Regions from separate parts of the Homo sapiens genome. Here region 1 is linked to region 2. The links come from fine-mapping of genetic effects on gene expression. Tissue or cell type: sigmoid colon. Region 2 holds a variant in brackets; the other region holds the start of a gene. All regions are shown on one strand. Distances are from middle to middle.

Region 1 (5,142 bases), 76 kb before region 2:
ATTTTCTACCACAGATTGGTTGTAAACTGCTGGACATTAAGGATCATGCCACGTTATTTTTTTCTTCAATATCTACTGCTATCCATTCCTTTATTCTACAAATATTTACTGAGTCCCTACAAACTGCAAACACTGGGAGAATGTTAAAAATATGTAACACAGTATTTTGGCCTTTGAGTGGCTTACAATGTAGTTAGAGGAACAAGAGCACTGCCCAAAAATAAAAGCACTGTAAACATTAAATTACAATATAAAAGAAACCACAGGACAGTGTATAAATATATTTGAGTGGACACTAAAGATTACAGGAAGTTTTTAAAAAAGGTATTACTGAATCGCTTGAACCCAGGAGGTGGAGGGCGCGGTGAGCCGAGATCATGCCATTGCATTCCAGCCTGGGCAACAAGAGTGAAACTCCGTCTCAAAAAAATAAATAAATAATAATTTAAAAAAGGTATTACTCTGGAACTTAGTAGTAGTAAATATTCACAAAAGATGTTGGAATTGAAGGATGGATATTTCCTAATTTGGTAGAGGAAGGCAATTTCAGGTATGGAGAGAGGCCTGAACAAAGGTGGAATGCCTTTGAGGGCAGGCAAATCTGGCTGGTGCAGACCATTATGGAGGTTTGAGCGGACAAGTAATTGGAAATAATGTTGGAAAAGTGGGTTGGGACTAGTATGGTACTTAATGGTTTGAATTTTGTCCTGAGACAAAATTTAATACTAAATATAGTATTAAAGCAAGAGAGTGATAATGGAAAATGTTGGTTTTCTAAAAGCTTAATACAGAGAAGTATTTAGGTAGATGAAGGAAAGAAGAGAATGGAAGCAAAACATAACATTTTGAGTTTGAAGTTAGGGTGCACTCAGTAGGAAATGCTTAATAGGAAGCTAGAGGTACCCGTATGTACCTGGAGTGTGGAAAGGTTAAAAAAGACACTAAAGAGATCTAGTTTTGGTAGACATCTGCGTGATGATTACAGCTGAAACCATAATAGGTGGATTCTTTAAATAATATAAGGGTATAAAAGCAGCCAGGCTAAGGAATGGCCTGTATCCAGCATCTAGGGATGTCTTCCCCTCACCCCAAGATGGTGCCCTTCTGATTCAGGCAGCAACGGGCATGCAGCATTAGCTCTCGTGTCGTTTTACAATAAAAGGCCACTTTTGACAAATTTTGCACGCTCCCTGGACATTGGGTGCATATCTGCAGAAGAGAAAGAAACATTAGAACTCCAGAAAGAAAAGCCAAGAAAAGAACAAACGGCGATCAAGAATTAACTGCCAGTACACGTTTCCAGAATTCCTCTAACACGGGGCCGATAAATGGATAAACGGCTCGTGTCCCACCCTTGTAACAGGCTAGGCTAGGAGATGCCATCTCTTCCTCCAGAGTCCTGCGCCGAATCAGCTCCCGACACTTTCAGTACCAGATATCGCACAGGGAAGGTCCTCATCTCTGAAGATCACTATTCGAACTTATTTATTATGCTTTCTGCAGAGACTTCTCAATCTGACAGCCCTAGTTTGGCGCGGTGTAAAACGACCGCAGGTACGTAAAGAACTCATCAAGCATTACAAAAGTACAGCCCTACCACCGCACGATATATGGCGTTCGTGCGTAGAGAGATTACACAAGAGGCAGAGGACCCGTCTGTAGAAAGAACTTAAAGTTATTCTAAAATTAAGGGGCGAAATCAAGTTTCACAGGTCTTTGAAAGTCGGCAGGACTGGGGCGCCGAAGGCCTGCACGACGTGAGTACTTGGGAACAGGACCTGGCTGGGCAGGGTCGGGAAGCGTCAGGGACGAAATCAGAACCGCAGGCCCGCCGAGGAGAAGGGGGAGCCGCTGGCGAGCGCGACGCACGGCTGGCCAGCGACCCTGCTTCAGCCCGACCTCAAACTTGCTTCTGTACCTCGGGTAGCGCCAGAGCCCTTTCCACGCCCAGAGCGAGGAGCAGGGCGGCAGCCCAGGGCACCAGGGTCGTAAGACTACCCGGGTCGTGAGGCGCCATTTTCCGTTCCCTTGGTGCTCCGCTGCTCGCGCGACCCGGCCCCGCGGCCCCGCCCCGCAGCGCGTCAGGCCCTCTTCCCCGGGCGTGGCCTAAGCGGCCCGGTCCAGTCGCCCTGGGGCTGCTTGGGGGCTTTTCCTGCTCGTGGAGCTCTGCGCTGGTCTTCATGCGCCCTAGCCCTCTTTCGGGGATACTGGCCGACCCCCTCTTCCTTTTCCCCTTTAGTGAAGGCCTCCCCCGTCGCCGCGCGGCTTCCCGGAGCCGACTGCAGACTCCCTCAGCCCGGTGTTCCCCGCGTCCGGACGCCGAGGTCGCGGCTTCGCAGAAACTCGGGCCCCTCCATCCGCCCTCAGTAAACATGGCGGCACGGCGAGCGGGGCGGGCAGGGGGCGGGCAGGGGGCGGGGCCCCCGCGGGCTCCCGGCCAGGGCTCTCGGCCGGGCTCTGGCTACCCACGTGTGGAGACCGGGCAGGTGGGCCTGGAGAGCGTGAGCCGGTGCCGAGAGGCACCGGGGAGCGGCGTCTGAGCCGGGGCGGGGACAAGGGGGCGGGGAGGGGCGGAGCGAGCCGGCCTCCGGCGTGGGTCTGAGATCTTAAGTGCGAGCGGTAAGGTGGTGGTCTCCGCCGCGTAGAGGGAAGCGGGAAACCGAGAAAGAACGAGGGTGAGGGTGATGAGGGAAGGGCAAACCTCAAACTCCAGCGGGAGGACACGAGCCTGGATCGCCCCGGGCACCTAGTCCTCTTCACCTCAATGCTGATAGCGCATAGCGTCCCGGAGCCTGGCGAGGAGGTAGGAGCGGGATAGACGCTTCCCTAACTCATTTTCTTTGCCTTCCCAGGAAAAGGGAGCGATGTTGATCTCAGGAAGCACAAAGGGACCTTCCTAGCTCTGACTGAACCACGGAGGTAAGGGAGTGCGTTGCTGCCCCAGGGTGGGCCAGCGCCCTGACTGAAGGGCGCCAGGGGATCCCTGCTCCCGGCGCGACAGTGTTGGTTAGGGCCAGCCAGAAAGCTCCTTAAAGCCGACCCAAGTGATCATCTCGAGTAGCCGAGCCAGGCTTCCCTTCCACATTACCCCCATGGTGTCTGCCTGGAAGTTCCTGAAAGGTTTACGTTTAGCTGGCTGGCAAATTTTCTAAGGTGTTAGTAGCTATTAGCATTTTAAGGAGGGCCCCCAAAGCCTTTCACACCTTGAGGAATTATAGGCCCCAGGACAGATTTTGAGGGAATCTTTTTGGAACAGTTAGTCCTGCAGTGGTCTCATTGCCTTTTGTAGGAGTCAATGCGATCCACTGCAGTGTGTGACCAAAGTGAGTTCAGGTTTTTATTTTTATTTTTATTTTTATTTTGAGACGGAGTCTCGCTCTGTCGCCCAGGCTGGAGTGCAGTGGCGCGATCTCGGCTCACTGCAAGCTCCGCCTCGCGGGTTCACGCCATTCTCCTGCCTCAACCTCCCGAGTAGCTGGGACTACAGGCGCCTGCCACCACGCCTGGCTAATTTTTTGTATTTTTTAGTAGAGACGGGGTTTCACCGTGTTAGCCAGGATGGTCTCGATCTCCTGACCTCGTGATCTGCCCGCCTCGGCCTCCCAAAGTGCTGGGATTACAGGCAGTGATGTGGGACCCCTTTTAAAAACCTGAACTTGGCCTGGCGCGGTGGCCAGGCCACCGATCCGCCAAGGCAGGTGGATCGTCATGTCAGGAGTTTTGAGACCAGCCTGGCCAATATGGTGAAATCTCGTCTCTACTAAAAATACAAAAAAAAAAAAAAAAAATTAGCTGGGCGCGGTAGCACATGCCTGTAGTCCCAGCTACTCAGGAGGCTGAGGCAGAAGAATCACTTGAACCCAGGAGGTGGAGGTTGCAGTGAGCCGAGATCGTGTCACTGCACTCCAGCCTGGGCGACAGAGCGAGACTCCGTCTCCAAAAAAAAAGGGGGGGGGGTCCCACAATCTGCTGTTTGTGCCTTGGCATGTTATAGTTGTAGTGAAACAACAGCTAGCTCTTGCTTTTGGCCGCCCTCTTTCTGGAGAGATGCGAGACCATAGCGTTTGGATCAATGTAGGGTGTTTAGAAAACTACAGATCTGTTCTCAGAATCTGGTCTGTTGCTAGGTCAGGTTTTTCCTGTCTTCCCTGGGGCTCTCTCAGGCCATCCAGGGGAATTCTCCATACATCATGCAAATAGAATTTTATCAGGAAGTCCCATCAGCAGAGTGTCTTTATTTCTGTACCTCCGTGTCCCATACTGGGACTTTCCTTCCTGTCTCTGGCCACCTACCTCTCTAAACCACTAACCCTATAGTTAGTTCTTTGTTCTGTGTTCTTTGCACACAGGAGACCTCTTCTTTCCTCTTACTCCCCAGTAGTTCCCATCATCTCTATCATAGCAGTAAAAACTTGCCAAAGACGAATGAGAAAACTCAGGGTGTTGCAATGTGCAAAGGCCCAGGGCATGTTTAGGTTAAACCAGAGTTTAAGCCTGTTGGGAATCTTGTAGAACATGTGATCCAAGAGTTGCCAGGTCTGATTTTCCCTCTTTATTGGCCCCAAGAGGTTCAGAGTTCAGGTTTAGTCTGCATGAGGCCATATCTTGCCAGCCAGCCAGTGTCTGCCCAAGAACACACTGTGGGAGAGCGGAAAGGCAGCCTAATCTTTCTCCTAGTGGGCAAAAGCAGAAGACATAGTTTATGTTAGTCTGTCTCTTGATTAGTTGAAATCTAAACTATGTCCTGTGAATGACTGACTGCAACACTCTGCTCCTGTCCTGGTTCTGGGAATAGTGAGGACAGGGCCCTTGCTGAACACCTGTCATAGCTGCAGACAGCACTGTTTCTCTCTCTCTTGTTTTGTATCATGCTGCATAACCTTGAGCAAGTTATTTAATCTCTCAGTTTTCTTGTGTTAACTGGAGAGTATTCGTGTCTTAATCTGAGACATGCTGTTTTGAAAATGTTAGCTTCATTATGTATTATTACTAATGTTTATAAAGCACCTCACACACTGCTGGGTTACATAGCAGGTGTTCAGCAAATGTTAACTGTCGTCATGTTAGGCTGTGTAACTACATGGCATTCTCTGGTGTTTTTTCCTCATACCAATAAGTACCCCAGAGGATTGCCTTTGAAGA
Region 2 (5,142 bases):
CACTTCTCACCTTCCCTGGAGCATTTTGCCAGTTCTTTTGATCCCAAAGGTGACATGGATTTAAAGTCTTGGTGAGTTCAGCTTGGAACTGGGGATATGAGGCAGAGCCAGAAATGGACCAATTCTCCCAATGTCTTGGGTTCTCTCTTTTCTCTCCAGGTCCTATGGGCTTTGTCTTCCTCTCTGCCCCACCCAGATAATCGCTGCTGCCCCTCCACTCCCAAGATGCAGCTGTGATTCTCCATCCCCACACATCCCTCATCAATGGTTGACTGCAAAGAAGTGAGAAGCCAAGCTTAGATTCATGCTCATGCCTGAACACCCTGAGAGCCTGGTGCTGGAGGGCTGGGTATCCCCTTGGCCTGCCACCAGCACCTGCACCCACACCAGGCTGGAGCCACGCTCTGCGCACAGAAGGTGGCCTTGATTTCTCAGGCACAGCTGACCTCAGAGATACTGGTCCTGACTCTGCCAGGTCTCTTATCCCTAGTCTTGTTGCCCCAGTTCCTTCTGGATTCAAGGCGATGTTGCCTCAAAACAAGGACCAGGTGCTGCCACAGACCTCAGTGCTCCCTGGGCGCCCCACTTGGGGCTTCTCACAACTTGTGGACTCCTCTCCTCACAACCTACAGCCTCTCTCTCCCCATCAGGGCCTCCCTCCCTCTCAACCACCGTTCTCTTCCACTCAGTCCCGTCGTCCCTCCTCCCCTCCACCAGCATCCCCCTCTCCTGGCTTCCAATTCGGCTCTTGTGACTCAAATTCTGACTTTGCTCCACATCCCTATTCTCCCTCTCTCCCAAGTTCCCCTACTTTCTTTCACCAGAACTACCTCTCTCTCCCCCGTCCACGTGCATCCTCTCCCTCCAACCACTGGCTGTACCCCTCTCCCCCTCTGACCCCTTCCTTTTCTCCCTCCCAGCCTCAGAACTCCTCCCTTCCCCACTCACCTTGCCAGTCCCCTTCCCACCCCGAGGAACTGCATAGCTCCACACTCACTTCCCCAGGCCCCAGCCCACCTTCTCATAGGCTCCACTCTAACAGGCAGACATGGCGCTGGCATCAGTACAGGGACACTGGGTCCGGGTCCCCTGGAGTGGTGGAGAGATGCGTGCCAAGCGAGAAGGATCCTGCACAGTTCAGGGACCCAGGGGCCCTGGCCCAGGCCCTGGTGGTCCAGCTGGGGCACCGCCGCATCGCACACGACCTGCGGCTACTGCTTTTGCAGCACCTGTGGCTAGGCAGAACCGGCCAGGCCCCAGTCGTGGAGTATCCTATATGCCTGGTGTGCCTCCGGCCCCGCAGCCCCTCCTGCCCCCTCCCCAGGTACAGGACTGGACCCCGGCTGCTTGCTTTCCCTCAACTACTGCCCTGTGTGCAGGGCCAGGAATCTGGGCCACTCCGGATAGGCATCGGCTTCGGCCTCCGCCTGCCTCAGGGCCAGGCCAGGGCCTTGCATCTGCTGCCCGAGAAAAGGCCGAAGGAAGCAGGGCCTCAGGGCAAGGCTACTCAGGCCTGTGGGCATCAATTGCCAGCATCTCAGCCTCCAGCAGCTCAGGCCCGGGCCGACCCAGTCCCAGGCACACCCTCCCAGACCAGGAGCTTCAGGTCTGCAGGCCTTCAATCACCAAACTCCCCACGATGTTTCTCCGGGCCTCCACCTCGGGCACCAAAACAGGTCACTACCTCCCTGAAGCCCAGGCCTTGCCCTGGCCCAAAGAGGCCAGTTTCTCTGGAGCTCATTCTCCAAAAGTCATCAGTCTAGTTCCAGAGCCACGGAGGCCCCCTGGAACACCCCCTCCAAACCCAACCCTCCCAACCAGGCCCCAGATCTCGGGGAGTCCCCGAGACACCCTGAAGGGCTGGCTGGCCGGAGGTCAGGTGTGTTCTCCTGCTCTGAACCCTGGGAGCCCCTTGTGGAGTCTGCTGTCTCCAGGCTGAAGAGGACCAAGGGCACCAAGGCCCCATTCAGCCCTCCGTGTATCTAATAAAGTCTGACCCTGTGAAACTTGTGTTTGCGTCCTGCTGAGTCCACAGAATAGGTGGCTGTAACTATAGGGGTGCCAGTCCCTAACAAGACCCTTGGTGGCGGGGAGGGGGTGGTTCATGCCTATAATCCCAA[C/A]ACACTGGAAGGCTGAGGTAGGAGGATCACTTGAAGCCACGAGTTTGAGACCAGCCTGGGCAACATAGCAAGACCCTGTCTCTCCAAAAACAAAAATATAAAAAAATTAGCTGAGTATGGTGGCGCGTGCCTGTACTACCAGCTACTCAAGAGGCTAAAGTGGGAGGATCACTTGAGTCCAGGAGTTCAAGGTTGCAATGAGCTATATCATGCCATTGCACTCCAGCCTGGGTGACAGAGACCCTATCTCAAAAAAAAAAAAAAAAAAAAGAGGGCATGGTGTGGTTGCTCATGCCTATAATCCCAGCACTTTGGGAGGCCAAGGTGGGCATATCATTTAAGGTCAGGAGTTACGAGACCAGCCTGGCCAACATGGTGAAACTCCATCTCTACTAAAAATACAAAAATTAGCTGGGTGTGGTGGCGGGTGCCTGTAGTTCCAGCTACTCAGGAGGCTGAGGCAGGAGAATCACTTCAACCTGGGAGGTGGAGGGTGCAGTGAGCTGAGATCAGGCCACTGCACTCCAGACTGGGCAACAGAGCGAGACTCCGTCTCAAAAAATAAAAAAGACCCTGGAGGGTGGTGTCAAAGGAAACGGAGAGGCCAGAAAGAGCAGGTGCCATGTATCCAAGGAGGACAAGGGACCCACAAGGCCTGGGGACTTGAGATATGCAGAGAGCTTGGCCAGGCCCTTCACACATCTAATTCAACTCTGTGGGACAGATATTGGCATCCCCAAAGATGAAGCCACTGCGCTATTCCTCTGGGTGCACCTTAGGTTAATGAGAATGCAGGAGAGGGCGTCTCTTTGCAGGGAAGGACATCCCTTGTGCTCGCTCTCAGGAGTGCACAAAGGTCCTCATCAGATCAGAAACCCGAGGGAGAATGGAGTGTCAGGCGCAGAAGATACCTGCCCGGGAGCCAAACTGCCCCCTCTGAGGCCAGCAAAGCAGCTGGCCACCCACCAAGCCACCAGCCCAGGAGTGTGAAGCCTTGAGAAAGGGAATGGCAGACACCACCCCTGCCAAAAGTGGGCGATAGGCGTTAAGGATGACAGACGTGTCCTCATACGAGGAAGCAATGGATTCAGCATTTGAAGTCAGGTTTATTTTTAAGTTCATGCTGCCTCCGTTAAGAAGCAAGAGACTCCGGTGGTTTCTGGTGTGTGCCCTCGGGCAAATCACTTCCTCTCTGAGGTAAGATGCAAAGGCCTGTGCTCCTAGGAGTTGGCATATCACTCCTCAGATGGGAACAGTCCTTATTTGAGGATTTTATGTGTGTGAGAGACAGGGTCTAGCTCTGTTGCCCAGGGGCTGGAGTGCAGTGGTGACATCACTGGTGGTCCAGCGCAGCCTCGACCTCCCAGTCTCAAGTGATCCTCCCGCCTGAGCCTCCTGGGCACCTGGGCCCACAGGTGCCACGATGTTTGGCTAATTTTTAAATATTTCGTAGGGACGGATCCCCATGTTGCCCAGGCTGTCTCGAAAGCCTGGGCTCAAGCCATCCTCCTCTCTCGGACTTTCCGAAAGTGTTGGGATTACAGGAGGATTACAGGCATGAACCACCGTGCCTGGCAGAGGATTTTTTTTTTTTTGAGACGGAGTTTCACTCTTGTTGCTTGTTGCCCAGGCTGAAGAGCAATGGCAATGGCGCGATCTCGGCTCACTGCAACCTCTACTTCCCAGGTTCAAGTGATTCTCCTGCCTCAGGCTCCCGAGTAGCTGGGATTACAGGCGCACGCCACCACGCCCTTTGTATTTTTGGTAGAGACGGGGTTTCTCCATGTTGGTCAGGCTGGTCTCGAACTCCTGATCCGCCCGCCTAGGACTCACAAAGTGCTGGGATTACAGGCGCGAGTCGGATTTCTTTATTAAAGGTTGACCTTCATCAACCTCCATTGGCTCCACCTCCTCCGCCCGCGCCCCGCGCCCCGCACAAAAATGGCGAAGTCGGTGCTGGGCGACTCTGCCTCCGCGCCAGGGGTGGAGAACCGAAGCCCCGCCCCGGGAAACGCGGCCCCGCGGCCGGCTAGTGCTGACGCGTGTCGGCGCTCCTGCGCCTGCGCGGAGGGAGCCGCGAGACAGGTGCGCATGCGCAGTGCGCGTCTGCGAGACCGACTTGGACGGAGCCGAGCTGAGGCTCGGCTTCCTGCTGATGGTCAGGGTTTTGGCAACTCCCCGGTGTGAGAGGGGTAGGGAGTGCTCCCGGCGGCGACGGGGCCGAGTTCACCAGCCGCCGGGGCAGTAGTCGAAGGCCCGGCGCGGCATGTCCTGGGTGCCGCGGTGCGGGCAGTGAACGCGCGCCGGGCGGGATGGGCCGGCGCCGGGCGCCAGAGCTGTACCGGGCTCCGTTCCCGTTGTACGCGCTTCAGGTCGACCCCAGCACTGGGCTGCTCATCGCTGCGGGCGGAGGAGGCGCCGCCAAGACAGGCATAAAGAATGGCGTGGTGAGAGCGCAGGGCCACTGGGGCTGGGTCTTGCTGCGGGCTGGCGGCGATTCCAGGGTGGCCGGGGGGTCGCGGGGCGGGCCACACTCCAGCTTCGGGCCCTGCCCACTTCTGTTGGGAAGACCCGCTTGCCTGACGCCCAGGGGCGAATTTCAGTCGAGAACTCAGCGGGCGGAGGAGAGGCTTTTAAGGTAAAGTGAAAACTGCACACAGCTGCAGAGTCGCCAGGAACGCTTCAGCTCCGCCTCAGAGCAGCTCCAGGGGTCTTATACTGGCCTTTTCCGGGAGGTCTTGCCTGCCCTCTAGCAGCGGCGAGAGTGGTGCATTTGGGTTTAGGCTAAGTTCCTTCCCTCTCCTGAGCTTCACCCTGTTCTGTAAAATAGAGGTAATAATCCCAGTCCTGCTCACTGTGTAGATTTGTGAGGCCCAAATGAGAGAAAAAAGACTCGAGAAACCCTTGTGAACTAGAACGTGCAGAAAGCAAAGGGGTAAGACATCAGACTCTTCCCTAAACGTGCTCTCTGGGCACCCCTGAACTTGCTCATCCGGGTTCCCCCTCCCACAGCACTTTCTGC

Evidence for each region. PIP is the estimated chance that this variant, and not a neighbour inherited with it, causes the effect.
Region 1: it holds the start of SLC5A6, and the variant in region 2 is fine-mapped to the expression of SLC5A6 in sigmoid colon (GTEx, PIP 0.95).

Annotation. Positions count from the first base shown.
Region 1 is chr2:27,209,244-27,214,385 of GRCh38, reverse strand. SLC5A6 (solute carrier family 5 member 6) reads left to right here and starts at 2,118. Exons shown (of 17, transcript NM_021095.4): 1 at 2,118-2,366; 2 at 2,853-2,919. It overlaps ATRAID (all-trans retinoic acid induced differentiation factor), which reads right to left and starts at 2,345. Exons shown (of 7, transcript NM_001170795.4): 1 at 1,919-2,345; 2 at 1,088-1,209. The coding sequence starts at 2,017. RefSeq lists silencers at 1,922-2,171, 2,362-2,681 and enhancers at 3,464-4,261, 4,216-4,275.
Region 2 is chr2:27,133,712-27,138,853 of GRCh38, reverse strand. PREB (prolactin regulatory element binding) reads left to right here and starts at 4,218. Exons shown (of 9, transcript NM_013388.6): 1 at 4,218-4,567; 2 at 5,133-5,142. The coding sequence starts at 4,433. PRR30 (proline rich 30) reads left to right here. Exons shown (of 3, transcript NM_178553.4): 3 at 160-2,006. The coding sequence starts at 525. The coding sequence ends at 1,763. RefSeq lists enhancers at 4,280-4,329, 3,805-4,461 and a silencer at 4,400-4,499. The variant C/A (reference allele first, on the strand shown) is at 2,121.